Linked DNA regions of Homo sapiens. The protein of the gene in region 4 interacts with the protein of the main gene of each other region in a pairwise test. Each region holds a gene or a part of one and is shown on either strand. Other genes may lie near its edges. The genes, in order: KLHL35, ARMC10, TTPA, FAM25A and LCN1.

What was found.
Region 1: the proteins of FAM25A (region 4) and KLHL35 interact in binary tests that used the Homo sapiens proteins (3 or more experiments, as listed by UniProt).
Region 2: the proteins of FAM25A (region 4) and ARMC10 interact in binary tests that used the Homo sapiens proteins (3 or more experiments, as listed by UniProt).
Region 3: the proteins of FAM25A (region 4) and TTPA interact in binary tests that used the Homo sapiens proteins (3 or more experiments, as listed by UniProt).
Region 5: the proteins of FAM25A (region 4) and LCN1 interact in binary tests that used the Homo sapiens proteins (3 or more experiments, as listed by UniProt).

What each region holds. Positions count from the first base shown.
Region 1 is NC_000011.10:75,422,441-75,428,291, reverse strand, and holds part of KLHL35 (kelch-like protein 35), read left to right. Parts: intron 1-1,653; coding exon 1,654-1,772; intron 1,773-2,710; coding exon 2,711-2,899; intron 2,900-4,411; coding exon 4,412-4,600; intron 4,601-5,523; coding exon 5,524-5,712; 3' UTR 5,713-5,851.
Region 2 is NC_000007.14:103,077,429-103,083,279, forward strand, and holds part of ARMC10 (armadillo repeat-containing protein 10), read left to right. Parts: intron 1-4,453; coding exon of another isoform or gene 4,454-4,480; intron 4,481-5,851. UniProt on the Homo sapiens protein: May play a role in cell survival and cell growth. May suppress the transcriptional activity of p53/TP53.
Region 3 is NC_000008.11:63,071,316-63,077,166, reverse strand, and holds part of TTPA (alpha-tocopherol transfer protein), read left to right. Parts: intron 1-579; exon of another isoform or gene 580-714; intron 715-4,078; coding exon 4,079-4,232; intron 4,233-5,851.
Region 4 is NC_000010.11:87,017,404-87,023,806, reverse strand, and holds the start of FAM25A (protein FAM25A), read right to left. Parts: upstream 3,514-6,403; 5' UTR 3,483-3,513; coding exon 3,410-3,482; intron 1,494-3,409; coding exon 1,431-1,493; intron 1-1,430.
Region 5 is NC_000009.12:135,518,693-135,525,011, forward strand, and holds the start of LCN1 (lipocalin-1 isoform 1 precursor), read left to right. Parts: upstream 1-2,747; 5' UTR 2,748-2,805; coding exon 2,806-2,895; intron 2,896-3,354; coding exon 3,355-3,485; intron 3,486-4,539; coding exon 4,540-4,610; intron 4,611-5,187; coding exon 5,188-5,298; exon of another isoform or gene 5,299-5,810; coding exon of another isoform or gene 5,811-6,137; coding exon 6,138-6,239; coding exon of another isoform or gene 6,240-6,319. UniProt on the Homo sapiens protein: Could play a role in taste reception. Could be necessary for the concentration and delivery of sapid molecules in the gustatory system.

The DNA.
Region 1 (5,851 bases), on a different chromosome or scaffold from region 4:
GCGTGTGACCCGCCCTTTATTCAGGAATGTTAACTTCAATACATATGATTACTTTTTGTTCTGAACCGGCTTCCTAAGGAAGTCAATTCGTATTAGTATTAATAATCACTTCAACTAGCCTACTATGTGCCGAACATTATGCTAAGAAGCTTACATTCGTTATCATTAAATCCCCCTACAATGCTGTTTTACAGATAAGAAAGGCTCGGAGAGGCTCAGAATTTCCCCCATTGTCTCAAAAATGGCAAAGCTAGGAGGAACACACATCTGTTTGATACCAACAAACTGTGTCCTCCCTAAGGCTCAAGCCCTAAAGACTCAGAGAAGCATAAAACACAGTCCTTGCTCCCCTGGAGTGTCCTGGAGAGGAGAGAGACTTCACTTTTACTGCCAGGCAGAATGTGATCAGAATTCTCAGAGTCCCCAGATGATCTGGAATGCCACTCAGGGAATCTAGCCAGGGTTCATAGAAGAGATGACTTTTCAGCTGGACCTTGAAAGTTGGAGGGAACAGTATGGGCAAAGGCACAAGGGCAGGGACATGCAGAAAGGAACCCTGGGGACTCAGGGCTCTGAAGTGCAGGTTGAGTATCACAGGTGAGGCAGGAGTCAGATCAGGGAGGCTTTGAGTCTGGGGCTAGGTGGATTGACCTTAATGTTGTAAAGAACTATGGGTGCCTGCAAAGAGTAAGGAGCAGGAGAATAAGCCAGGGAGGCCTCACAGACCATCCAGGCCACAGATTACCACTGGACAATTTATCCAAGGCCATTGATGGCTCTGAGCAACATGTGGGGCCTTTGTTGGGTGCCACTAGGAATAAACAAAGATGGGGCTACCAAACAGATGTGGCTCTGGTCACAGGCTCAGGCTGAAGGGTGCAGTTAGGGTTGTCCCCAGGGAGGCTCCCATTGAGAGGTGAATCCCTGGCCAAGATCCCCAGGGTGGCCAGACATGGGAAGGGAGAGTCCACATCCTGCATCCCCAGTACCTGGCCCCATAGGGCATGCCATGTCCTCCAGCAGCACCAATGCTGGGCCTGGAGCCAGAAGCTCTGGTTCTGGCTCTGACAAAAGGCCATGTAGTCTTCAGCAGGTCATTGTTGGTCTCTAAGTCTCATCTGAGTTTCTTATATGTAAACTGGGTCTAATATTCCCAACACCTCATGGAGGGATGAGATCAGAAATGAAATTGTGCAGGTGAAGGCAGAAGGGAGGGAGGGTTATTGGGTCACCCTCTACCTATCCTGGCTCCCAGTGCAGCTGGCTCTGCTTTTCCTGGATCCCCAGTACATTCCAGATGCTTGCCTTAGGTACCCTTTGTACTCTTACCTTTAGTACAGCGGCCCCCTCTTTGCTTTCCTGAGCACAGAGCCTGGCACACCACCACCACCACCACAAGGTGCCCGGCGAAAACCAGCCCCTTCTTCCTGAATGTGTCAGGCTTCTCCCCTCGAGGGTCGTAACTCAGACATTCCCACCACTTATTCAAAGCACACTGGGTCACAGGTCCAGAGTCTTACACCAGCTCAAGAAGTCCTCCTGCTGCCTTCCCTTAACCCTTCCTTTGGATCTGGGGGCCCTAGTTTCTAGCTCTTTGGGGGTGCTTGGGATAGCAAGAGAGCCGATGGGCAACAGCTGCTTCTCTCTCCCTAGGAGGCCACATCAACAGTCATGATGTGTGGATGTTTAGCTCCCATCTGCACACCTGGATCAAGGTAGCCTCTCTGCACAAGGGCAGGTGGAGGCACAAGATGGCAGTTGTGCAGGGGCAGGTAGGCACGAGCTGCAGCGGCTGCCCTGGGACACAAGGTACAGATCTGTGGATGTGCTGGAGGGAGGTTCTCTAAAACCCTCTCTTTGTAAGAAGGGGTCTGAAGCCCCCCAAAAAAGGAGACTTGTCCAAGGTCACATAATAATGGCTGATGCTAATAATAATAGCAATTACTGTAATAGTAACAGCCTGATGGTCAAGGGTATGGGCTCTGGGGCCATAGAGTCTAGGTTTGAATCTTGACTGTGCCACTCAAGAATAAAAGAATCTGTCGGCCGGGCGCAGTGGCTGTAATCCCAGCACTTTGGGAGGCCAAGGCGGGCGGATCACGAGGTCAGGAGATCCAGACCATCCTGGCTAACACGGTGAAACCCCGTCTCTACTAAAAATACAAAAAATTAGCTCGGCGTGGTGGCTGGTGCCTGTAGTCCCAGCTACTCAGGAGGCTGAGGCAGGAGAATGGCATGAACCTGGGAGGCGGAGCTTGCAGTGAGCCCAGATTGCACCACTACACTCCAGCCTGGGCAACAGAGCGAGACTTTGTCTCAAAAAAAAAAAAAAAAGTCAATTATCTTTGTAAGCTACATCCCGAATTCAGAAACAAAGATGCTTCTTAGAATCAATTAAGTGGGGTGGTAAAGTCTCAATACTAGCTATTATTATTAAGCATCAGCTTGGTGCCAGGTATTTTACAGCTGTAACCATGCAGGTTAAGGTCTCATCCCCGCTAAATGAGAGGAAACCGGCTCAGGGAGGTACAGCAACTGGGTGGAGGCTGCCCAGGTGGTGGCAGCACTGGGCTCGGGGGTCAGTTTGGTCCTGAAACTGGGTTGGGGACAGGGATAGTTTCCAGCTCAAAGACTGTAAGGACTGAAGCGATGAGGCCGAGGGCCCTAAGGCCCTGGCACCCGGCTCCCCGGCCCATGTCCTCACTTGCAGCTGTTCGCGGTGGGTGGCTTCGACGGCCTGAGGCGCCTGCACAGCGTGGAGCGCTACGACCCCTTCTCCAACACCTGGGCGGCCGCCGCGCCCCTCCCGGAGGCCGTGAGCTCGGCGGCGGTGGCGTCCTGCGCGGGCAAGCTCTTCGTGATTGGGGGCGCCAGGCAGGGCGGCGTCAACACGGACAAGGTGGGCGTGGGCCTCAGGCGCGAGAGGGCGTTGAAGGCTGGGGTGCCCACTGTGTGCCAGGCGCAGAATTGGGCGTTTCCATGCCCTTGTCCATTTATTCACTTAATCCCATCAACAGCCCAGACCAGTCACCTCCATGTTTCAGGGAAGGAAATGAGCAGAAAAATGACCCCAAGGTCACACAGTGGGTCAGCAGCACACTGGGACTCAAATGTTTGGGCTGGTGCCATGTAAGTTTCATACATTTTAAAAATTGAGGGCAAGATAGTTAAAATGCTTTTGTTCCATTCCAAAAACAATACACTTACTACTGAAAATTTAGAAAACACAGAAAAATAGAAAAAAAAAAAACCCATAATCCCACCGTCTAGGCAGAGCTGCTATTCATATTTTGGTGTGTTGCCTTACAGGCTTCCACTGAATTGATTTTTGTTTTTCTTACAGTTTTGTTTTGTTAGAATTTTGCATTCTGCATTTTATTCTAATTTAGGTATGAGCATTTTCCACGTGATTATCAACTTTACAGCCATCATTTCAATGTCTGTACTATTCCACATGGTGGATGAACTAGAGTCTACTCATCTTTTATTGTTGGGACATTTAGGCTTTTTGCAAATAAAAATATTTATCATAGCAGTTCCTTCCCTCCCCTGATGGCCTCATAAGCCTGTGGTCCTAGGACTTGACTCTTTCCCAAATTAGGGTGCCCACGCTTCCTTATTCCCTGACCACATTCTTCCAGCAAACCCTCCTGGAGCTGAGTGATAGGCACTCATGGTGGGAGGCCCCATTTAACACCATCCATGCAGCACTGATTTGTTATAGGCTGCTGTGGGGGGAGGGGGTCTCCAAGGAAACAGTTGAGGAAACAGAGAGTGAGGTGAGCAGGCAGCTAAATACAGAAACTGTTAAGGGCATCAGAAACACCCATGGGCATGTGGACAGCTGTAGAAATAGGGCTGCAAGACACCTCAGCTAGAATCTAATGACCTGAGAGCACCAGGAAAAGAGAAGGGAGTTGACAGTGTATGCAGCTAGGAACACATCCCCGTCGGGGGTCTGCTCTGAGGACCCTCTATAACCCTAAAGCAGACAGTACCTCTCCCAGCTCAGTATGATGTGCTCTATGATTAATCTAACATGAGGCGACTGTGTTCTCCATCAAAGGAGAGACTGTTCCTGTGTGTGTGTGTTGAGGGGTGAGGGGAGGGGGGAACACCAGGGAGACCTTTAAGGATGGGGTGGCATTTGAGCAGGACCTCGAAAGATGAGGAGGCTTTTGACAAAGGGAGTCCAGAGGCAGAGGACAGAACATAGAACTAGATGAAGAGCCCTTGAGGGCAGGGACGGTGGACCTCCCCCTCCCTCCCAGATGCTGGCTCAGGCCTGGTGGACACTGGCAAATGTCGTTTTGAATGAGTGCCCCCGGGGGGAGAGGTGGCAGCATGTGGGCGGTGGGGCATTTGTTGGGGGGGGCGGTGAGTCTTCACCACTGCTGCTCTTGCCCCTCAGGTGCAGTGCTTTGACCCCAAGGAGGACCGGTGGAGCCTGCGGTCACCAGCACCCTTCTCACAGCGGTGTCTCGAGGCTGTCTCCCTTGAGGACACCATCTATGTCATGGGGGGTCTCATGAGCAAAATCTTCACCTATGATCCAGGCACAGATGTGTGGGGGGAGGCAGCTGTCCTCCCCAGCCCTGTGGTAAGTGGAGGCTTCAAGGCAGGAGAGCGGAACCCGCTTCTAAGGCTCTGGATCTTGGAGCTTGTGAATCTTGTGACTCCATCCTAGGTGGTTTTATTATACATCACTCTCTAGCTCATCCTCACAGTGATAGTGAACCATGCATTTCACAGATGAGGAGACTGGCCTTAGAGAGGTTCAGCACCTGGCCCAGGCCAACAACTAGGCCCTGTTAAGGCAGAGCCTAGAACCCTGCAGTCCCAAGTGCTATAGCTTTGAGTGGGGATTTGGTCCAAATGACCCTGTGGTCTCTCCTGCCCCGAAGGCCACTGCTAGTAACCAATCATGAGGTAAGATGTGGGGAAGGGAGTTGCTAAGGTCTGCTCTAGTGATATCAGAGCAGGGAGGCCCAAGTCCTGGAAGCTCTGGCCCCTGCAATTCCCTGCCTCCCCTACCTTCTTCTCCATCCCCTGAAACTCCAGAGACTACACAGATATGGTTGGACTGGAGGTCTCTGCCAGTTCTGACCTTTGGTGACCTTAGAGGTGAGATTTCTGGCTTGAGTCTGAGATTCTAAGATGGCGGCAGTCGAGATTATTGTTATTGGTGTGCTTACCACATTCCAGGCTCTATGTAAAATGCTTTATATGCTTAACTTCCATTAACTGTTAAGGGAACCCTGTGAAGAAGGCACTTTAGTTCTTCTCCCTTTGCCGATGAGGAAACTGAGGTCCAGAGAGGTTAAGTGACTTGCCTAACGCCATTCACTGAATAAGGGTCAAGCTAGAGCTGGAACTCAGGTCCATCCAGTTTCCTGCCTCTCTACAGTCCAGATTGCCTGTTCACAGTCTGTGGGTCAAGGTTCTATTATCTGGCCTGGCCAGGCAGGGACAGAGGAAGCCCCAGGCTGGACCTGATAGTTGTCTTTCTGTTTGTCCACCCAGGAAAGCTGTGGAGTCACTGTGTGTGACGGGAAGGTCCACATCCTTGGCGGGCGGGATGATCGCGGAGAAAGCACCGATAAGGTCTTCACCTTTGACCCCAGCAGTGGGCAGGTGGAGGTCCAGCCATCCCTGCAGCGCTGCACCAGCTCCCACGGCTGTGTCACCATCATCCAGAGCTTGGGCAGGTGATTCAGATTTGGACAGCCTGAGCCAGGAGGCGGAGAGGCAGGCGGAGCTCAGATGCACACTCTGCTCCCTCATGGCACCTCCACGCAAACAGCCCTTAACTTAATGGTCCCTTTTCTTGTATAAATAAAATCTTGTTGGG
Region 2 (5,851 bases), on a different chromosome or scaffold from region 4:
AGATTGAGGGGCCGTAGCTGGTAAGGGCTTTCTTGTTGTGGCATAGGGCATCCCAAGGCCAGAGGGGCAAGTGTGTTAACATGCTGACTCAGGTCTCTTGTTCTTATAAAGCCACCAGTCCTGCTCATTAATCCATGAATGGATTAATTCATTCATGAGGACAGACCCCTCATGATCCAGTCACCTCTTAAAGGCCTTACCTCTCAATACTGCCACATTGGGAATTAAGTTTCGACATGAGTTTCGCAGGAGACATTCAAATCATAGCATTTACAAAGCCTAATTTGTTGTCTTTGCCCATGTCAGAGATATTTTTGTATAAGTACATTGGGAAGGTGTCCTGGACTCAGATATCTTCTCAGTTATACTGACTCAATCTGATGAATGTGGACAGTCTTTTAAACTTAACAGTTCCCATAATCATCATTATCTTAGGTAAGGCAGCTTAAAAAATAATTTGCTCACAGTCCCTTCTTCCTGAAGCTACTCCTTTATCATTGAAGAAGACTTGAGAAATGCTCATTTCATCATCAATATGGTTTGGCTTTGTGTCCCCACCCAAATCTCATCTTTTTCTTTTTTTTTGAGACGGAGTCGCACTCTGTCTCCCAGGCTGGAGTGCAGTGGCATGATCTCAGCTCACTGCAACCGCCACCTCATGGGTTCAAGCGATTCTCTTGCCTCGGCCTCCGGAGTAGCTGAGATGACAGGTACACACCATGTGCCTGGCGAATTTTTTTTGTATTTTTAGTAGAGACAGGGTTTCACCATGTTGGCCAGGTGATGTGCCTGCCTTAGCCTCCCAAAGTGCTGGAATTACAGGCATCAGCCACTGTGCCCGGCCCAAATGTTATCTTGAATTGTAATCCCATAATCCCTACATCGTGGGAGGGACCCGGTGGAAGGTAATTGAATCACGGGGGCAGTTCCCCTCCCCTCCATGCTCTTCTCGTGATAGTTCTCAGGAGATCTGATGGTTTTATTAGGGGCTTCCCCCTTTGCTCTGCACTCCTTCTCTTTCCTGCTGCCTATGAAGAAGGAAGTGTTTGCTTCCCCTTCCACCATGATTGTAAGTTTCCTGAGGCCTCCCCAGCCATGTGGAACTGTGAATCAATTAAACCTCTTTCCTTTATAAATTACCCAGTCTCGGGCAGTTCTTCATAGCAGCATGAGAATGGACTAATAAAGTCATCATCACGCTTAGATTTCAGAAGATGATCTTTTGTTTTTTGTTTGTTTTGTTTTTGTTTTTTTTTGAGACGGAGTCTTGCTCTGTTGCCCAGGCTGGAGTGCAGTGGCGATCTTTTCTTTGTTTTAAACTCACACCTCTAATCCCTTTGGGAGGCTGAGGTGGAAGAATCGCTTGAGCCCAGAGTTCAAAACCAGGCTGGGCAACATAGTGAAACCCCATCTCTACAAAAAATAGAAAAATTAGCCAGGCATGGTAGTGTGCACTTGTAGTCCCAGCTACTCAGGAGGCTGTTTTGGGAGAAACCCTTGAGCCCAGGAGGTCAAGGCTGCAGTAAGCTGTGATTGTGCCGCTGCTCTCCAGCCTGGACAAAAGAGCAAGACTCTGTCTTAAAAAATAAAAAATAAAATAATTTTTGTACTAACGTGGTTTGAGAGCATTGAAAAAGACGGAAACAGTCCCAATTCATCCAACAATCTAACGTCATAACCTGACAAGGATGGTAAGAAAAACTATAAATCTGTCTCAACTATGAATAAAGATATAAAAATCTTAAAATATTAGCAAGTCAAATCTATCAGGGGATTAAAGTAATAATATACCAAGGCCAAATGGACATGGAAGGAGGAGTCATACTAGAAAAAGGAAAAGCCACATGATGACCTCATAATAAAAAGGCATTAAAATATTTCTTTCCATAGCTGAAGCTCGGGGAAAAAAAAAGAAAAAAAATTTTATCATTTCTGATAAAAACTTGCAGCAAGTAAGGAATAAATAGAAGGAAATGTTCTTAAGTTGATCAAGTACATCCATCAAAACCCAAAAGCAAATATCGTATTTAATAGACACACTAGTTAGTAGCATCCTTATCAAACTCAAGAACAAGAGAAGGGTGTCTGCTATCACAGCTACTATTCAACGTTCTTCTGGAGTCATAGCTTGATAAGAAAACAACATGCATAAATATTGGAGGCAGAATTATAATCGTAGGTGGCATAATGATTTACTTGGAAAAATCCAAGAGAATTAACTAACTACTAGAAGCAATGAGTTTAATAAAATATCTTGAGTACAAGTAAATATACCCAAATCAATAACTTCTTGTATACATGCAGTAACAATTCAAAATTTTAATTGAAAATATTTTATTTGACAGAATGAGACCCTGTTTCAAAAAATATATATCATTCATGATAGCTATAAAAACTTTAAAAATTAGGAATTCACTTTAAAAACTAGGAGTTCCTGTAGTGAGAAGATAATTTTACTGAAGGGCCTAAGACTACATAAACAGGCATATTGTGTTCCCAGTTGGAAAGATTCTGAACCATGACAGTTATCTTGAAATTTGTCTTGCTACGTTATAATGTGGTAGTCACTTTTCATTCCCTTTGAGAATTCTAATTTCTCCTTGATTTACTGGAGGAGACCACAAACCACCGAGCCTAAGATTCTTTCACAGTCTTGTTGGCACAGAGCTAGATGGAAAGTAGAACACATGTTTGACTCCTCACCTGTGTAATAGCAGTCCAAAAACTCACCAGTGGAAGAGCTGAGTATTTGATGATCGCCCTCCTGTAAAATTTTTAGAGTTTTAAGTTTTACATTTCTTTACTAAAAAGTTATACATGGTTTTTGTTTTGTTTTGTTGTTTTGAGATGGAGTGTTGCTCTGTCGCCCAGGCTGGAGTGCTGTGGTGCGATCTCAGCTCACTGCAACCTCTGCCTCCCAGGTTCAAGTGATGCTTCTACCTCGGCCACCCGAGTAGCTGGGACTACAGGCATGTGCCACCACTGCTGGCTAATTTTTGTACTTTTAGTAGAGACGGGGTTTCACCATCTTGGCCAGGCTGGTCTCGAACTCCTGACCTCAGCTTATCTGCCTGCCTTGGCCTCCCAAAGTGGTGGGATTACAGGTGTGAGCCACCGTGCTGGGCCGATAAATGGTTTTTATTAGAAATTCAAAGAGAATATATAGAATTAAAGTATAGGCTCATTATTTTATTTTTTATTTATTCATTTATTTTTTGAGATGGAGTCTTGCTCTGTTGCCCAGGCTGGAGTGCAGTGGTGGGATCTCGGCTCACTGCAACCTCTGCCGCCCAGGTTCAAGCAATTCTTCTACCTCAGCCTCCGGAGTAGCTGAGATTACAGGCATGTGCCACCATGCCTGGCTAATTTTTGTATTTTTAGTAGAGACAGGGTTTCAGCATCTTGGCCAAGCTGGTCTTGCACTCCTAACCTCGTGATCCGCCCATCTCAGCCTCCCAGAGTGCTGGGATTACAGGTGTGAGCCACCGCATTCAGCTAGGCTCATTATATTAATATACTAGGAGGAATAATGGTTGAGAGGAAAGAGTAATGTAGGAGTAAAAAGATCTGGATTCTAAAGCCACTTTTGCTATTATTAATCAGCTATGTGTCCCATTAATGAAAATAATATACTAGTCACTTTAAATATTCTAGGTACAAAAGTGCTTTGAGGTAGGCACTATTAACTCCCACTTAGCAGATGAGTAAACTGAGGCTGAGAGAGCCTAAGTCTCTTACCTGGTAAGTAGCTTATTTGGGAATTTGAACTAGACAACCTGACCCCATAGCCTTGGCTTAGTTTTAACTACCACATTGTGCCTCTTCCCACCAAGTGAGAATTCTGTGATACAACACCGTGAAATTTTATCGTTAGTGATTTAATCCCTAGAAAAATTTTAAATGGCTATTTATAAAGAATTTATACATCTATAAGCTTTCTCTTTTTTAAAAACAAAAACAAAAACAAGGTTTCATTACTGTCACGCAAGCTGGAGTGCAGTGATGCAATCTCAGCTTACTGCAACCTCTGCCTCCCAGGCTCAAGCAATTTTCCCGCCTCGGCCTCCCGAGTACCTGGGATTACAAGGCATCCTGCACCACGCCTGGCTAATTTTTTTCTGTTTTTAGTAGAGATGGGGTTTCACCATGTTGGCCAGGCTGGTCTCAGACTCCTCAGTTCAAGTGATCTGCCCGCCTCAGCCTCCCAAAGTGCTGGGTTCACAGGCGTGAGCCACTGCACCCAGTCTATAAGCTTTTTAAAAATGACTTCATGAGATAACATAGAGTGGTATGATTTTGAAATATCTCAAATATGGATGAGTTAAATTTATCACATTTCTGCCATGCATGTGCACGTGTATGTATGCATGTGTATATGAAATCATACAACTTCAGGGCTGTGTAGGAAACTCTGGAGCCAGTTACAGTATTAAGCCAACCCTTTTATTTGCAGATGAGAAAACTGAGACCCCCAAAAATAGTAAGTGACTTACTTGTAACTTTGATTTTTCATTTCTGTGGTTTCTGCTACTAACTACCCCTGTGACTTTAGGCAGATCCTTGAACAATCCTGGCTTCAGTTTCTTCCTGTGTAAAATAAGAGGTTTGGATGAACCCCAAATTCTTTCCGTTCTAAAAAGTTGTGTTTTTATCATTCTTTCCTTTATCTTTTCAAGTATTCTTTGGGTGAAACGCTATTTTATAAGGTGTTAATGAGGCCAACAGTGTATTCAAAAGTAAAAGGTCCTGATTAAGACTTGGTAGTGAGAATATTCTAGCTTTGTAGCTGTGACATTTTCTTAACATTTCTTATTTGGCTTCCTCAGGGCATCACATATTATATATCACGTACCACATATTGTTTCCCATGTGTAATCTATACTTGTCCCTTTATTTATTTTTGTGTGTGTGTGTGTGATTCTTCTTTGAGCAATATACTTAGTTATTTTAGTTACAGAAATAATACCTGTTTATTGCAAAAAAAAAAAAAAGTACTGTTGAGTACAGGGTAGAAAATAAAAGTCCTTCATAATCCCACTACCCAAAAATAATCACCTTTAACAATTTTATTTACTTATTTTTTTTTTAATAGAGACAGGGTCTCATTATGTTGTGCAGACTGGTCTCGAACCACTGGCCTGAAGTGATTCTCCTGCCTCCCAAAGTGCTGGGACTACAGAGATGAGCTGCTATGCCCAGCCTAACAATTTTATGTGTTTTAAGAAAAAACACAGATTTGAGATCATGTAACACCTATTGTTGTGTAACCTCCTCCTCACCTACCCTTGCCCCTCCCCCCACCACCCCAGTAAGAGTGTTATAAAATGGCTTCTGTTCTTCCTGTGGTGATTTCTGTAAAGAGGATTTTTTTTAAGGTAAAGCCATAAGTTTAAACATCATTGAGCAGATCCAGCATTTGGCTATCCTAGCTCTTCTTCAAAATGTCAGGTTTTCTTTTGTCATCACCACCAGCAGGACTATTATTCTAGGATCCTAGTCATCATGCCTTGTATAAATCAAACAAAAATGCCACACTAGCAACAAGATTGGTTTACTCTCATAGCTTTCCTTCTATCTGATGTGCTCAGAAAAGATCTGCTTAATGCAAATCATATTTCCTAATTAATCTCTTTATAGGTAAGTGTTCATTGGATGGGTGTACCTCGTTTTTAAAAGGAGAAGCAAAATGTTATCAGCATTTGAGGTATATAGTATTTGCATGAAGTGTCTTACTAACAGCCATATGCCAGGTGACCATTGACTAATTTCTTGGTATCTATAAGCCTACACTTCCCAGCTGTAATTTGAGAGTACTACAAGTATCTTCTTCCTAAGGATGTAAAGTGCTTAA
Region 3 (5,851 bases), on a different chromosome or scaffold from region 4:
GATTTATAAAATATTTTTATGTATTTTAGGCCTTTTTATATATTTTAGGCCTTTGTCCTTGATTTTTATCTGTTACATTACTTATACTATTTTTTTCTGTGCAGAATTTTAAATTTTAATGTAATCAAATGAATTGATTTTATTAGTCTTTGATTGCCTCTGGGTTTTATAATCTCTTCTCTTGTCCAAAATTTTTTCTAGTTATTTGTGTCTTCTCTTTTTTATGTTGGGGTCTTTGATCTATTGAGATTTGTTTTTATGTTAGGAGTAAAATAGGAATCCAACTTTATTTATTTTCATTTTTTAGATGGCTATATAAGTATCCCAATATCATGAGTAATAAACTAATATGTACTTAGTAACTACTGAATATGAAAACACAATCTCAGGTCCTATGAAGAATGAAGCTTAAATGAGGCATTAAACATATATATGTATAGAGATAACTAACAATAAAACATGTTTCATTTACTAATTTCATTTTAGCTGCTTTAAAAAAAGTAATGTTTAAATAGAAAAATAAAATTGACCATCAGCCTCTGGGACATAATATATTTTTTTCTGTATTCCTTAAATAAGGAATTGTTTTCATTGTACCATGCCCTTGAGGAATTGGCTAGCAGGACTGTGTCTAAATCCACCGCATAGAAATCAAGTTTCTGTCTGTGAACTCTTTGTCTTGCTTTTCTGCCAACTGGAAAGGAAAAGGAAAGGGTAAGAGTGCAAAACTTTTTTTCATTTTCCTCTGCAATAGCACTTAATTCAACTCTAACTTCTTCATTCATAATATAGAAGCCCTATAGTTTTTGTATAAAGAAAGCTTGATAAGTGCCTCAGTCACAATGAAATTTCTCATTATTCTAGTGTTTGTATTTGAAGTTATGATGAATTAATAAGGTTTTATTATATAATCCTAATAGCTAATGTGCTTATAGAATGCAACATACTTTGGTAAGTAGGGTTTTCATGGATTATCTTTTATTATTTTCTCATTTTAGAAGAAACAGATATAAAGAGTAAGTAACTTGTCTGAAATTATGTAGCCATTAAGTGTTGAAGCAGGGATTTGAATTTGGGTTGGGCTCAGGAGAGAGCCTGCGCTGTCAAATACACTGCACTTGCCTCTTATATTTAAAACAACAAACATATAAAACAGCTAACCATTCACTTCTCTGCCTGTTCTACATAGTCTCATGAATTCCTTATATCAAGTGATAGCCTAGTTCCTTATACTTTTGTTCCATGTGATAAGCTTTTTATGCTATAATTATCTTTATGGTTTTCCCAAAGCTTTCCAAATTCCATAGATTCTCCCTGCTAATTTCTCTCTAAATGCAGCTTCTTTTATAAAATTTTTCATATCATGTGTCCATTTCAGTTTCCACTCTGCTCCTGATAGTTATTGCCTTTGAACAAATGTGTAATTTCTCATAGCTTTACTTTACTTTTTTTTTTTTTTTTTTTTTTTGAGACGGAGTCTGGCTCTGTCGCCCAGGCTGGAGTGCAGTGGCGCAATCTCGGCTCACTGCAACCTTCGCCTCCCAGGTTCAAGCGATTCTCCTGCCTCAGCCTCCTGAGCACGCACCACCACACCCAGCTAATTTTTGTATTTTTAGAGATGGGGTTTCACCATATTGGCCAGGATGGTCTTGATCTCTTGACCTCGTGATCCATCCGTTTTGGCCTCCCAAAGTGCTGGGATTACAGGCATGAGCCACTGTGCCTGGCTGGAGCTTTACTTTTCTTATTCTTATAATGCCACAACAGTAGCTACTTCTCAGGGTGATGGTGAGGAGGAATTCAAAAGATGGCATTAGACCCTATAAAAGTGCTCCAAATATGGTGGTTCTTATTTTGTTTCAAAGTACATGAAACATGTAAGAAGAAACCTACTCTGTTACAAAACATAGTTAACCCATAACATTTTAAATGTTTATTTACTTCTAATGTTTGCAAAACAGACACCTTCCAATGATGAATATTTATTTTTAGCCACTTCTTTGTTGTTGTTGTGGACATAGGGTGGTTTGTTTGAGAATTGCTCAGTAGCAGTTTATTTACATAATTTATTTATGACAGCTATACTGTGAATTTATGTATCAGTGGATAAGTAAAGACCAAAGTTCCAGGTTTAGATCTTTCAGTTTGCAAAAATTGTGCGAGATAGTGATTTGTGCCTCTTTACAGAAGTCAGTTTTTCAAGTGTGTGGTTCCAGTTGGTTTACTCATGACTTAATTTATTCTTTCATTCAACACGTGTTGTTATCTCCTGGGTGTGCAGCACTCTGCAGAGATGAATAAGCTGAGGCCCCTGCCAGTATTAAACCTAAATGATCCCTTCTAATGAAGCCACAACTTTTATCATTCCACAGGAAAAAAAAACACATTATTTCTATATAGTTACTAATGTGCAGCTTCCAGCATTTTACTTGAATTGGAATGAAAAAGATTTTTATGTCTGAGGAAACTATCAGAAAAGTAAAAAGCATTGTAAAATACTGTTAACAGTTATTCTGGTACCCCCTAAGACTGGAGGAGGAAGAGAAATGCACCGTGTAGAGTAGAATGAAGATATTAGGACCTACAATGTGCCTGTTGTTCTCATGCTTTTGGAAACTGCTATTTAGGTCACCAATTATTTCTTTGTTGGCAAATTGACTTTTTTCTTTCTTACTCCTCTCTTGCATTTAACTCTTAGCAACATTCTCTCTTTTTTCAAAGTTAAGAAAGGTTTATTAAATACAGAAATGAAATAGAGGGAGACAGACAGAGAGAGAAAGAGAGGGAGATAAATCAGAGATGGGGGTGAGGGGGAGCAGAGCAATGCAGATGGCACTGTCCTCCCTCTCGTGTACCAGTGCTGGTTCTCTTCAGGTCCACTCAGTTTCTGTCTTCCTCCAGCCATTCCCAGCCATTAACATTTCCCAAGGCTCAGCATTTCCCTCTCTAGTTTTTGTCGTTTGTAGTTTCTCCTCCAGATCATTGTGATTTTTGTGGTTATAGTTACCTTGTTTATTCCAATTACTCTCAAATATAAAATCTGTCATTTTCTCTGCACTGCAGTCTCACATTAATAAGTCTCTTTAAACTCAAAACAAATGTATTGTAACTTGTGAAAAATTGAGAGTGCCAAAAATCATGAGAATAAAATTAAAATATAAATATAATAATTTTTAAATACATAATTTGCTTTAGTATTTTCCACAATATGCTGGTAGTGTTTGTATGTTTGCGTATATGATTAGCTATTTCCGGTGGTTCTTTTGGAAAGAAAGAAAATGGGATTTCTTCAGACCATATTTTGACAAGATCCAGTATCCAAGTATACTGCTCCTGGGCTCTTCTAACTCATTTGATTGATTTCTATACTTCCTTATTTCAAAAAATACTAAAAGTGGTGTTTCAGCTTTCTATTGCTGAGCAACAAGTCACTCCAAGAATTAGTGGCTGAAAACACAATGATTTATTTGTTTTTGATATCACCAGTTTGGGCAGGGCTCAGTGGGAGTGGTTCATCTCTGTTCCACATGGCATTAGATGGGAACTTGGCTGAGGTCACACTATCCAGGATGTCCTCTCAACCTCCATGCCTCTCTCCACATGAATTGCTATCATTCAGTAATCTCACATAGTGTCTGGATCCCAAATAGTACATTCAGAAGGTACCAGGCTTCTTAAAGCTTGGCCCACACAGTATCACTTCTGCCAGTTGATATTAGATCAAAGCAAGGTGGAAGGCCAGCCTAGATTCAAGGGGAGTGAAGCAAATAGATGCCATCTCTTAATGGGAAGAATGGTGCATGGGTATCAGGAGGGGAGGAATTGGTGGCTGTCTTTGGAGGATATCTACCATGGGTGGTGAATGAAAGTTGCTCAGCTCTGAATTTGTGATTAACCCCTGTCACCTCAGATCCTTGATAAAAGAACTTTCAGTTTTCACAGCTGAAAAGATACCCTAGATTAAACTCTTGACATAATGGATGGCAAAGTTTATACACAATGCCAAAGCTTTTCTTCCATTTTTACAAAATCATTACCATGTATGCCATTTGTAGACAATTTTAATTTTATTTTTCAGTTACTAAAAAACTATTATAAGTGGAGAGCAGAATGTCCAGAAATAAGTGCAGATCTACACCCTAGAAGTATTATTGGCCTCCTAAAGGCTGGCTACCATGGAGTCCTGAGATCCAGGGATCCCACTGGCAGCAAAGTTCTTATTTACAGAATCGGTAAGTCATACACAACTCTTTTTTTTTTCTCCTCTCCTCCAGTTCAGTTGTGTTCCCTCCCCTCTCCTCTTCTCTCTTTCTTCCATTTCTTCCTTGAATACCATATAGAAAGCTTCAATGCATTCATCTTTAGGAATTTGGGCTTTAATTTAAAATTTTAGGTTTTAACTTAGATTTAATTTAGGTCTTAATGTCCCCCAAATATAATAACACTTTGGTAATTGTGAGAAAATTAACAGATACAAGTGAAAATCCTAGTTCCATTCTTCCACACAGTCAACTGTACAAAATAAGAAGAAAGGAAAATAGTGAAGATGAATAGTGTGAGAATATTTTAAAAAATCATGGAAAAGTGTTTCAAAAATGCTTAGTAGGAAGTGCAAATAAGAATTCTGAACTATTGGCTGGGCATGGTGGCTCACACCTGTAATCCCAGCTGAGGTCAGGAGTTCGAGACCAACCTGGCCAACATGGTGAAACCCCGTCTCTACTAAAAGTACAAAAATTAGCTGGGTGTGGTGGTGCATACCTGTAATCCCAGCTACTCGGGAGGCCGAGGCAGGAGGATTGCATGAACCTGGGAGGCAGAGGTTGCAGTGAGTCAAGATTGCGCCATTGCACTCCAGCCTGGGCAAAAGAACAAGAGTCCGTCTCAAACAAACAAACAAAAAACAACCAGAATTCTGGGCTATAATGTAAACTCCATGAGATTGTGGATTTCATCTACTCTGTTTGCTGGTGTATCCCAAGCACTGAAAACATGGTCTGGTACTTGGTAGGTAGTCACTAAATATTTGTGGAATGAGTGAGTGAATGACTAGTTCGAAAATGCCCCAGGCCGAGGAGCAAGAGGCTCATTCTCTTGGGTGGAGGAGGGTGCAGAGGAAAGGCAACTCCTCTGGGAGCTGTTGCAGACACGGTATTCCATTAACTCCTGTTTATTCTCATTGCATCCCCTTTTTTTCTATTAGGTGTAGCTAGTGTTTCTTGTAGGTTGGTGTCTTAGTGTATTCAGGCCACTATAACAAAATGACGTAGACTGGGTGACTTATAAAAACAGAATTTTATTTCTCACAGTTCTGGAGGCTGGGAAATCCAAGATCAAGGCACTGGCAGATTTGGTGTTTGGTGAGGGCCTGCTACCTGGTTCCTAGGTGACATCTCTCACTTTAACCTCACATGTTGGAAGTGAAAAGGCATCTCTCTTGGAACTCATAAGGGCACTAATCCCATTCATGAGGGTTCCATCCTCATGACCTCATCATCTTGCAAAGGGCCCACCTCTTACTACCATCACTTTGGGAGTTAGAATTTCAGCATATGACTGTTGAGGGGATGCAAACATTCAGATCATAGCAGTTGGTGACCTATAACTTCTGTCCTCCCTCAGACCTGCATATGATTAAAAATGGCCGGCACAGGAGAACGACTCACACTATTCCCAGAATTTCTCATGGCCCAGTTGAAGGACAAAGATAAACCAACATTTCATGACCAGAATTTTTTAATTATAATTTTACAGAAACAACTATATCTTTAAAGATTTAAAATATTTAAATATTTGCATTTCTTGCCTGCTTATAGATAAGATACCTGCCTGTAACTCAACTGCTTGCCAT
Region 4 (6,403 bases):
CTTGATCTTGGACTTCCCATCCTCCAGGAGTGTGAGAAATTTCTGTTGTTTCTAAGTCGCCCAGTTTATGGTTTGTTTTTGTTTTTGAGACAGAGTCTTGCTCTGTCACCAAGGCTGGGGTGCAGTGGTGCAATCTCAGCTCACTGCAACCTCCGCCTCCCAGGTTCAAGGGAGTATCCTGCCTCAGACTCCTAAGTAGCTGGGATTACAGGCATGTGCCACCACGCCCAGCTGGTTTTCGTATTTTTAGTAGCAACGGGGTTTCACCATATTGGTCAGGCTGGTCTTGAACTCCTGACCTCAGGTGGCCCACCCACCTTGGCCTCCCGAAGGGCTAGGATTACAGGCGTGAGCCACTGCACCTGGCCTATGGTATTTTATAATAGCAGCCTGAGCTAAGATGGTTATCTCCTAGTAAGTTAATAAATTCATTTATGTAAATTTAAGTCCTTCATCTACCTGGAATCTATTTTGTTGAAAAGGAATGAGATATACATATGCTTTGTACATAGTTCTACTCATAGCTCACACACATCAATTTAACATTTAACATAGAATTTTACATGTTAAATTTTTTTTTTTTTTTGAGACGGAGTATCACACTGTCGCCCAGGCTGGAGTGCAGTGGCACGATCTCGGCTCACTGCAAGCTCCGCCTTCCGGGTTCACGCCATTCTCCTGCCTCAGCCTCCCGAGTAGCTAGGACTACAGGCACCCGCCACCGTGCCCAGCTAATTTTTTGTATTTTTAGTAGAGATGGGGTTTCACCGTGGTCTGGATCTCCTGACCTCGTGATCCGCCCACCTCAGGCTCCCAAAGTGCTGGGATCACAGGCGTGAGCCACCACACCCAGCAATTTTTTTTTTCTTTTTTTTTTTTTGAGACCGAGTCTCACTCTGTAGCCCAGGCTGGAGTGCAGTGGCATGATCTAGGCTCACTGCAAGCTCTGCCTCCCAGGTACACACCATTCTCCTGCCTCAGCCTCCCAAGTAGCTGGGACTATAGGCACCCACCACCATGCCCGGCTAATTTTTATGTATTTTTAGTAGAGATGGGATTTCACCGTGTTAGCCAGGATGGTCTCAATCTCCTGACCTCGTGATCCACCCTCCTCAGCCTCCCAAAGGGCTGGGATTACAGGCGTGAGCCACCGCGCCCTGCCATGTTAAATGTTTTGTCCCAGTGTGCTGTCACATAGTCTTGTGTGACTTTGTCTTCTTATTCCACAGACAGAACCATCTAGACAGTGCCCTAACGCAGTACAGTCTGTGGCCTCTGATGAGCATAGATAACTGCCCCAGCCAAGAGGCTCTGAAAGGCTGCAACATTGGGGGCAGAGTTTGACCTGGTTAGTCAAAGAACAGGTTGGCCCAGCACCTAGCTTCCCTTGCTCCCTCCCTCCTTCCCTGCCCGACCTCAGCCAGCTGTACCTTTCTCTCCAGTCTCCTTGGCGTGTCCCACCACCTCCTTCACCACTTCTTCCACGGCATGAACTGAACAGAGGAGACAAGTCCAGGGTGAGGGCTCAGAGCAGAGCCGCTGCCCTCCCAGTCCAGGGTGAGGGCTCAGAGCAGGCCCACTGCCCTCCCAGTCCAGGGTGAGGGCTCAGTGCTGGCTTATCCTCACAATGGACCTATACATCCCTGGACATCCTAGATGGGGCTCTGGGATGCCACCCCCAGCCAGGACAGACTGGCTCATGAGAAGGACCTTCCCCCACAGCTGGCTTCCTTCGGAGACGCCAGGGCCTTGGCTGCCGGGAGACGAGCTCAGTGAGCCCCATGAGGGCATGGGTCCCTGAAGCCCCTTGGCCCTGCCCGGCCTGGAATGGCAATGAGCAGGCCATCTTGCCAGCTGAGACATGAAGCCCAGGCTGGGCCTCTGTGCCAGGTCACACCCCTCTCAGGATGTGCTAGCGCCTGCCTCAGGTTGGTTTCCAAAGCCTCATCCAGTAAAACCAGGTCTCTCAAAGCAATTCCTCCAACAAAAGGGAATTCTCTGCCTACTTCAGAGTTTTTTAAAGTGTAGGTGGTAGCATGCTAGAACTGAAGGATTTCAGAGTCAGAAGAAATGGTTCTTATTCTAACTCTACCTTCCACCTCTTGGTTCCCTCATCTTTAGAATGGGAATCTGTTGGGGTGATGAGACCCAACACCAGGTCGCGGGGGCGGCAAGTCCAGAGGAGTCAAAGGAATGAGAAAGAGACAGTTTGAGAGAGAAAATGGGAGCGGGGCGCCATCGCGAGTGTGGAGGCTGCGAAGGCCCGGAGTTCTGGGAACCCATGCTATTTATTGGTGATCTAACAAAGAAACAGGTGGTGAGGATGTGGCGGTTGAAAGGAAACGGTGTATCAAGTGAATGAGAAACATACGGCTACTTGAGAAAATGGGAGTGCTAGAAGCAAGGAGCCAGCCAATCTAGCAAGCCCTGCCTCAGCTTCTCTCCCAACACTCAGCTTTTCTCCCAACAGGAATCATACAAAACTCAGAGGCTAGTGAAAGGTTAAAGCAGGTGGTCCACACCAGCTGCAGAGTCAAAAACAAAATACGCGTCTGCTGCCATTTAGAAAGAGGACACAAACTCAGGCAAGACTGTTTTTCACACGATGACCCATGAGTGGCTCCTGGCTGGGCCTCCCCACACATAGCTGCTGACCTCTGAATACAACATACACTTCGGGACCAGGTGCGGTGGTTCACGCCTGCAATCCCAGCACTTTGGGAGGCCAAGAGGAATGGATCACTTGAGGTCAGGAGTTTGAGACCAGCCTGGCCAACATGGCGAAACCCTGTCTCTGCTAAAAATATAAAAATTAGTTGGGCATGGTGGTGGGTGCCTGTAATCCCAGACACTCAGGAGGCTAAGGCATGAGAATCACTTTGAACCCAGGAGGCAGAGGTTACAGTGAGCCGAGATCGCACCACTACACTCCAGCCTGGGTGCCAGAGCAAGACTCCATTTCAAATACAAATAAAAATAAAAATAAACATGCTTCAGGGGACTTGGATGAAATTGAAAATGCCCTTTTTGACTTTGAACAGACTTGGTGACTTGTTTAGAAATCTTTGAAGCTTTAAAGTTATGGTAAAAATAAAAATCCATCTTCCTTTTCCTGCATAGGTTATTCAGAATAGGCTGTTTTGACAAGAAAGGCTCCCCAGATTTCCAGAGGGAAGGGTCCAAGCTGCCAGTGTTCACCCAGCACCAGGACTCATGCCCTGCCCCCAGGAGACCTCCCCAGGTCTGCACCCCTCAACTCCGTGCTGACTTGGTAGAGCAGGGGACCAGGGTTCCTGAGGGGCCAAGGCCTCCTCCCAGGTCCTCACCTGCCTACTTAGATCCGCCTCCCACAGACCCAGTCTGCCCCAGATCCCCCCAGCCCAGGTAGAAAGGAGCCCCAGGTCCTCACTGGCTCCCTCGGTGGCCTTCTCGGTGCGGTGGGCCAGGCCTTCGGCAGCCAGCTTCCCCAGGCCTCCCAGCATCGTGTGGCAGCAGACAGTGGTGAACTAGGATGCTGAGGACTGGCCCAACATGCTTTTATAGCTGCCTCTGGTGCCTGTCTAGGCTCTGGGGCAACAAGCCCTTGCCCCAGCCCAGTAGGAGGCTGGACAGGTGAGTCAGCGAGGGCGGCAGCAGGAAGGGGCTGGGCGGAGCCACCCTGGCACTGGGGTGGCAGCATCCCCTGACAGCCTGAGGCTTCTGTAACCCTGTCCTAGGGACCCCGTGAAGGATAGGGGCAGGGAGCAGGGCTGGACAGGAGAGATCTGGACATGCCTCTTCCTTGAGGCAGAGGGCCTGAGTGCCAGCCCCCCGAGACCAAAACTTCCCAAGCCTGGGTACTGATATGTACCTGGAGACAAGGCCTAGGATTCCAAGCCTGCTGCTCAAGGTCCCCAGTGTGGCCTAGTAAGAGGTTTAGGGGTTCTATGGGCCTGGAGACCTGGGCAGTCCTTTGGGTCATGAACACAAGTGGAGTGAGGGTGACTGCCCTCCCCATTCCTGGAGACCCTGGCTCTGCAGAGCAGTTTGTGGCCTCTATGGGACAGGGTGGGGCGTTCAGGGTGGTGCCTTGCCTGAGTCAGAGGGGGGCACAGCACTGGGCAGAAGTGTAGTCACCTGGCTTTGCTCAGCTGATGCTCACTCACCCAAGAGTGTCTGTGAGGCCAGCAGTGCCCTCCTATCCCCTGGCAGTCCTGGAGGAGTAGACAGAGGCCTCCACCACCACTCAGGGAGATGCTTCTGGCCTTAGCTAGAATCCCCTAGAAAGCAGCTTCCCTGGCTCCTGGTGCATCACATGAGGAGTGGCAGGGCTGCTCCCTAGTTACTCATGATGGACAGACATGCCTCAAGCCACCTGCCACATGCTGCTTCCCTTAGTCACCAGCCCAACCTGAGCCTCCGTTTCCTCATCTGTAAAATGGGGATAGCGTGCCTTCCTGGCTGTGTCACTAATCGTCCCTGAGACAAAGCATGCAAGCTCCTGGTAAACACCTGTTCCCTCCACTCATCATTGAGGTGCCCTTTGGCAGTGAGCTCTGACCAACCGGTAGGGTGGGCCAAGGAGTGACTGGGACGTGAGGCTGCCTTGGAGCCAGAGGGCTGGGGAATGTGACTTCCGCTGGCCAGGAGCCAAGGAGAGGTCTTCCCATCCTCCTACTTCTGGGGTGCAGGCCTGTGGCAGGGGTCTGAGGCTCTCTCTTCAATGCAGGCTCCTGGAGCTGCTCTCCTGGGTGTGTTGGGGCCTGATTAGTTTACTGGACTGTGGGCCCTCCCAGCCTGGGACTCGGGAGCTGAGACCCTCTTGCATTCCTGCATGGTGTTTGCGGGCTCCAGGGCTACGGCCAGTCCCCCTAGGGTGGACAGTGGGTATCGTGGGCAGCAGGACCTCTGGGTCTCAAGACTACGGCCCCACACATGCCATTGCTATCTCCTTTGGGCAGGGGTGAATTGGGGCTTAAACAATTTAGAGGGGCCCTCTTTATGAAAAAGAATACAATAATATGATTCTTGCACATTTTTCATTTATATACGTATGAACTTCTGGACCCAGAAGGGGCTGTGAAAGTCGGGGGCCTGGAGCTCAGGCGGGTCCAGATGACCCTGTCCTCCTTTTGTAACAGCCAGAGTCCAGGATGTTTTTGCCCAGGGCATTGGGCTGGCACTGCAGAGGCCTGGGGGATGGGGGGACACCTGGGACATGGCTGGTGGGAATTGTTCTAGGAAACCTCAGGGATTCTCCCTGGACCTGTCAAAGCCCCTTCCCTGTTTCTTCTGAGGCTGTGTGTCCCCCACTCGCACAAGGGTCCTTTCTATGCCTGTTCCGCTGATAAATGTCATCTGCCTGCTCTAGAATGGCTTCCAGACCCCACAGACCCCCTCCTCACGAGCTCCCACCCTAGGGTACTCTCCACCAGTCCCCGCTTTCAGGAGCTCACCAGACTCAGACAGCCTGTTGTCAGAGCTCAGCCACACAGCAGGACCCTGGCCCACTGCCCAGACCAGAGCCAGGCCCACCGCAGCCTCGGGGGACAACTGTCCTTCCCCCACCCCCTCCACATGGTCCCCTGCCCATGAGACCCTGCCCTGCTAATTTAATGCACTGCCTTGGTGTGAGCACTGTGATTCTAATGACAACACACCATGGCCTTCTGGGCAAGGCTGGGTCCAGACACAGATCCCAAATGCCTGCTGGGGAGAAGGCAAGAGGCCCGGGGAGGCCCAGGACAAGACATGGGTCCCAGGCCCTGGTGCCCTCCCTCTTGGCCTTCCAGCCGCTGCTGCTGTGACCAGATTCCCATCCACCCAGCCCAGTCCATGGGCCCCAGCAAGCCATCTGTGCCCCACAGAGGGCAGACCCCTAAGAGTGGGACCCCTTTCTAGCCAAAGAACATGAGATGGCCCCAAATCCTCCTAAACAGGATGGATCCTGGTCTGAGGGGCTGGGCTCAGGTGACTCCTGCAGGGAACTTCACCTGCCTGGATGAGGTCAAGGGTGAATCAGGTGGGGCCTGCCCTCCACCACCCCATCATGGAAGAGGTCCAGCCCACGGTGGGCCCAAGAGGGCCGCCCTTGGACCTAGGGACCCAAGTCAGCATATCCTGAGTCAGAAGGTCAAGTCCAGCCTCCCCTCAGGCAGGGAGAATCTGGCTTTGACAGGAGCAGATAAATTCTCAAGGTGGAATTTGCCCAACAAACTAGTTTGGCAAGGGACTAGCTGGCTGAATCATTGAGTCAAGGACAGCCAACGTTTCCAATAGCAATTTGCCAACTTAGCAATGACCAATTCTGAAAAACAATTTGTTTATTTGAAATACTTAAATACTTAGGCTGTCTCATGTCTGAAGCATGATGATGCCTTGCGTGATTTAAAGGACAGACGTCACGAATGCCAAGAGTTTTGTG
Region 5 (6,319 bases), on a different chromosome or scaffold from region 4:
GTTTTGTGTGCATTTAGCACTCTTTAAATATGCACTGAAACAGAACCTTTCCCCCACCATCAAAGTCTGCACCATTTGTGTTTGTACAGCCAGCAGGTAGTTTGCCTTGCTGACATCATTTATCCCCCTGACCTCGGTCTCCTATAGACTTGCTAAAATTCTCCCTTTCAAATTTCCTTTGATGGAGACCAGTGAGTGGTAGACGCTCTCAGTTGTTGTTGTTGTTTAATTTTTATTATTATTATTTTTTCGAGATGGAGTCTTGCTCTGTTGCCCAGGCTGGAGTGCAGTGGCATGATCTCAGCTCATTGCAACCTCTGCCTCCCAGGTTCAAGCAATTCTCCTGCCTTTGCCTCCTGAGTAGCTGGGATTACAGGTGCACGCCACCATGCCTGGCTAATTTTTGTATTTTTAGTCAAGATGGGGTTTCACCATGTTGGTCAGGTTGGTCTCAAACTCCTGACCTCACCTTGGCTTCCCAGAGTGCTGGTATTACAGGCATGAGCCACCACACTGGGCCTCAGTTGTTTTTTAATGTCCGAGATGTCTTTATTTTGCCTTCAATATTTTATGAAAGTTGCACTGAGAATAACATTCACAGGTAAATGTGATTTCTCCCGGGTCTGTTAAAGACGTCACTCCACTGTCTTCCGGAAGGCAGCGTTGCTATTGAGAGGTCTGCCATCAGTCCACATCCGCTTTTATGGTATGTAGTGTGGCTCTTCTTTCTGGTCATTTTGACTTTTTTTCTCCTTTCCTGGATGATCTGCATTTCACTGTAATATTCTAGGAGTGGATTTCTCAATTTTGATCATTCCTTGGTAATTTAGATCTGGGGTGTCATCTTCATGTCTTTTCAATTCTGAAGAATTCTGAGCTATTCTGTTGCTTTGTTGCCATTTTAGAAAATGTTTTTCTTTCAGAACTCCTATTCTGTTTATATTGGAACCTCCTGATCTATTCTCCATGTGTGTTAACTTTGTGCATGTGTGTGCATGTGTGTATGTGTGTGAGTGTGCATGTGTGTGTGTATGTGTGCATGTATGTGCATGTATGTATGAATGAATGGTGTGTGCACGCGTGTATGTCTGCGTGTGTATGTGGGTGTGCATGTGTATGGGTTTGTGTGCATTTGTATGTGTGCACATGTGTGTGTGTGCATGTGTGTGTGCGTGTGTGTGCATGTGTGTGTGTATATCTCTGTGTGTTGTGTTTTCAGAGCTGCTGCACTCTAGTTGGTTTCCTCCACTCATTTTATTACTAGCTCCAGGCTGGAGACTGAATCTATCTGTAACACCTCAATTTCTCTTTTGAATTTTTCTGCTTTCATTGATTTTGTTAGTACTATCTTCCATGACACTAAGTCTCTTTTCTACTATGTCAAGTCTGGAATTTAACCTGTCTATTGAGTTTTTTATTCACTTTATTATTCATCTTCAAGATTTGTAATTATTTCTATTTCGTCTCTCCTTATTTCTTATATTCTGGCCAGTTCTAATTTTATACTTTATATATTTTTAAATCACTAGGCATCTTGATCATACTCCTGCAGTTTTAAAGTGTGTGTCAGACTTTCCTTGGCTGGTGTAAGTTCCTGTACCAATTGCTCATTTTTAGCCTGCCTTTCTTAGTGTGGTGTTTCCTTGGGTAATTTGGAACCTGGCCTTTCTAGCTTATTTCAAGGTGAGGATATTGTGTCTCTGCATTTCTGCCTTTCTCTGCCATCTTGTTGTCACTGTCCTCTGTCTAGCAGTGTTTTGTAGCCTCTGCTCCCATCCCGGGTCCCAGGCTTCTGCTCTGCAGTGATGCAGAGCATGTCACAGATAAAGTCATCCTTTCCAAGGACGGCTTGTCTCAGCTTCTGCCCTTGAGGCTGTGTTGATGTCCTCTTGCCTTCCTATGCCCACAGTGCTCCACTAAGTTATACGAAGTTACAGCCCTGGGATGTGTCAAGGAGGGTTTCTCAGCCTTCTTTCTGGAGTCAGGGAAGCCCCTCCCATCACTCCCAGGAGCCGGACCTAGGCCCTCTCTGCCTGCCTTGGGACTTGGAGCTGACAGGCCCCTGCCTCTGCCCCATCACCAGCCTGTGCTTCTCCTCCATTCCTTGTTTTATGTGAGTGTGTGTGCGTTTGTGCATGTATATATGTACACACATGCATACACACACACACACCTGTCTTGGTCTTCTGTCTGTCTGACCTATTGCTGCTCTGTGTGTGGAGCAGAGAGGGTCGTTACTGCACACCTTGCTCAGGACAGTGGACACCGTCTTTAAATGCACACGGGATCGTGTTCACACAGGAGGGTCCCTTTTTTTCCATGATGAATCTGAGGCCAAGTAACCTGCCCAGAGATGCAGGAAGCTCAGCTGAGCCCCAAGCCCACGGCCCTCGGACTCCAACCCCAAACCCCCTTGACAGTGTGCACGTCAGCAAGTGTGGGATGGCTGGGGGGCATCTGTTACGGCTGCACACGTCCCCAGGAGGCCTGCACACCCTTCACTCCCTTCAGTTTCCCTTCAGGTGAAATCTGCAAATCTGCTCCTCTGGACCTGGTCCTGTCCAAGTGATCCTCTGGGATTAACAAGCTGTTATTCACCAGCCTCCAACAATAATGGCAGGTTATCTGCTCCATTGCAGAACTGGCAGTGGTTTACATCCAGGAAGGGATTGGTCAGTCTCCTGTGCCAGGTCCCTGGGGGACCCTGAGCCCAGCGGTATAAAGGGCGGCTGTGGGAGGACTGGTACAGCCTCTCCCAGCCCCAGCAAGCGACCTGTCAGGCGGCCGTGGACTCAGACTCCGGAGATGAAGCCCCTGCTCCTGGCCGTCAGCCTTGGCCTCATTGCTGCCCTGCAGGCCCACCACCTCCTGGCCTCAGACGAGGAGATTCAGGATGTGAGGCCCGGATGGGAAGGCTGGGCTGGAGGGGGCAAGGGGCGAGGCTGAGACTGGATGGAGACCCCATGCCTCCTCCATCCAAGGAGACCCTCGTTTTTGGGTTGGGCATTCAAGCCCTGCCCTGAGGGAATGGTGGGATGGGGCAGCAGGGGTCTGGGCTGGCAGGGTAGGTGGCGCAGGGGTGCAGAGTGGGCAGGGCTGGGAGGGTGGGGGTCTGGCTGACTTCACTTCTTCCCTGGGGATGAGGGCTCCTGTGGTCCTGGCTGGCTTGTGGGGGCTGGAGCCACCTTCAAGTGGGCCTGGCGAGGGTGCTGGGTGTTTTCTGGGTGGGTTAGATTGGGGAACGTTCCCCGTTTCCAGCCCTCGGGGTGCGGTAGAGTCTAGGGGCTGCAGGCCAGGGAAGGGGGAGGCTCTGGAGCAGTCGGCCTGAGCCTGATAGAGAGGGGCCTTCTCCAGGTGTCAGGGACGTGGTATCTGAAGGCCATGACGGTGGACAGGGAGTTCCCTGAGATGAATCTGGAATCGGTGACACCCATGACCCTCACGACCCTGGAAGGGGGCAACCTGGAAGCCAAGGTCACCATGCTGTGAGTGTCTGCCAGCCGGCCGGGCAGCCTGCAACCTGGTCTAGGGCCTTCCCTTTCCCCACCCAGGAGAGCTCTGGTGCTGGGGAGGTGGGCAGACCTGCTGGGAGGCCTCTCTCGGCCCCTCCTGCAATGCTTGAGGGCAAACTGTGCCACTGAGGTGCCTCGGCTGGAGGGGCCCTGAGGGGGCAGAGGCCCCGGATCAGACCCTGTGGGCTACCAGTGGCAGCCCTGGGTACCGCCCACTTCCTCCTCCGACTAGGGAATGTCTGGTGACGTGCAGGCCCCTTTGGGAAAAGGTGTTTACCCCCGACCAGAGTCAGAGCCAGTCCTGGCAGTAAATTTCTGCTTTGGAGAAGTGCAGGGATGGGGCTTGCAGAATGACCAAGAGGGGGCATAGGAGAAGACACCATGGAGAAGACCCCCTTGAAATCCCTGTGTAGCGCTCACCTGTGCGGCTCTCACCTGGGCTGCTTCCACCCGCGTGGCTCACATCTGTGACTTCCCACCTGTGTGATTTCACCCGCATGGCTCCCTCCTGAGTGGCATGCAGTGCCTGTGCTCCGGTCCTGGGGGCTGAATCTCAGGAAGTCACTGACCCTGGCAATGACCCCGATTTTTTTTTCCCCCAAAGCCCCTCACTGAACCTTTCCCTCTCTGGGCCAGATGATGATGGATATGGGGCTTGTGCCTGAATGTCTCTAAAAGGAAGAATGCAGCTGGCGGGATGAGGCTCAGGCCCACGCCACAGACGCTGCCTGCAAACCAGGCAGCCTGGGTGCCTCTGGCAGGAAATGTGTTGGGGGCGGGGGGTTTGGGAAGGCAGCCACCAGGAGGAGCGGTGCAGAGCTCCTGGCCATCTCGGGAGACCCCGGGAACTGCCGCATGGGACCCGGAGGGGCCGCTGGTGCCTGGGTCTGAGATGCAGAGAAGCACCCTCCTCCATGGGCCTGTGGCAGACTCGGGGCCACATTTGCAGGGCATTGCAGCATGGTTGCTCCAGGGCCGGGGGAGGCACAGGCCAGGGCCGCTTTGCCAGGGGGCTTCTGTTTTCCAGGATAAGTGGCCGGTGCCAGGAGGTGAAGGCCGTCCTGGAGAAAACTGACGAGCCGGGAAAATACACGGCCGGTGAGTCCCGGGGCCTGAGCCAGAGCCTGAGCTTGAACACACGCTGGATGTGCGGGGGCAGCCAGTGCCTTTTTGGGGTGGCCTTTTGGCCTGGGAAGCCTTTTGCTGCCTTCTGACTCCACTAAAAGCCCACTCTCTTCTCCCACTGGTCAATTTGCATTAGAGACTTGAACACCTGACCCCAAACACCAGGTGTGGCAGGTTTGTCCCGGGGCGGACCCTCTGGGCTTGCCCTGTAGCCCTGGCTGTGGCTCTGGCAGGGCCAGGAGCAGAGTCGTATTTGGCTGCGGGGGGCTGTACCCCAACTCCCACCTCCGCAGACCTCATACCCGGAGGAACCCCCCGTGACTCACTGGTTTGGGATGTGGCCGCCTCTTGGGTACATCAGGTTCCTGGGAAGTGGGGGTCCCATGGCCTGGGGCTCAGGCCTGGTGGGGAACCTGGGTCAGGGAGCTCTGGGAGGCTGGGAGGGTGCAGGAGCTGCGGGGCTTGCTGGGCCTGGCAACGCACGCTGTCCCGGGATCCTCTCTGAAGTCCCTGGTGGCTAATTCAGGAATGTGCTGCTGTCTTTCTGCAGACGGGGGCAAGCACGTGGCATACATCATCAGGTCGCACGTGAAGGACCACTACATCTTTTACTGTGAGGGCGAGCTGCACGGGAAGCCGGTCCGAGGGGTGAAGCTCGTGGGTGGGTCCCGCACCCTCACCCTGCAACCCATGCCTCCACCTGCCCTCCCTCCTCCCTCGGCCTCCTGCACCCTCTTCCCCATGGGAGAAGCCACTGGGACCCAGGAACCCACTGCAGTTTTCTTAGGATGAGTTTTCCTGATAAAGGCCTCAATTCCCACCCCTGGAGTTCAGGATTTGGGATGCCCCGGCCTCGGTATCTGCAGCAGAGGCAGGAAGGAGCCACGGCTGCAGGCACAGGGGTTCAAAGGTCACACATGTCCCAGAGTGGGCCAGGCCCTCCCCCGGAGCAGCTCCCTGCAGTGTCATCCTTGAGCGCGTTCCTGTGGGGTGTCCAGCAGGAGAGAGGAACAGGGATGTGAGCAGAAGTCTGCATGGAAAGAACGTTCCAGCTCCCGGGGTTGAATTCCGGACGCGGTGCCTCCCACAGATGGTGACTCATCAGTGCTGTCCCTGTCAGAGGACGAGGCCCATGAAGGCTCCTGAGTTCTCCCTGGAGCCAGGGGTGTGCGAATGACAGAGGATTGGGATCCTGGTGCCCCCAAGGGGAGAGGCGCTTCCTCCAGGGTGGGCCTGTCGTGCCGTCCATCCTCACTCCGGGAGATGCTCAGGGATGGATGGAGAGCCCTTCCCGTTCTCCCGGTTCTGCTGCCACAGGAGCCTTCTCAGCCGTGCACGGCACCCTGGTCCCACTTTGCCAGCCTGAGGGCCTCTGGGTTCAATTCCCCCCACGGTGGGCGAGGTCCCCTTCCCCAGCCCAGCTCAGGCCTCCAGACTGGGATGGGGTGCCGTCGGCCCAGTGCTGCCTCGAGCACCCACATCTCGTCCTGGCACCCACAGGCAGAGACCCCAAGAACAACCTGGAAGCCTTGGAGGACTTTGAGAAAGCCGCAGGAGCCCGCGGACTCAGCACGGAGAGCATCCTCATCCCCAGGCAGAGCGGTAGGAGGCATGGCCCTGCAGAGCCCCCCATGTCCCCGCGTGGGGACATCAGCAGAGCTGCATTGCACGGGCGCATAACT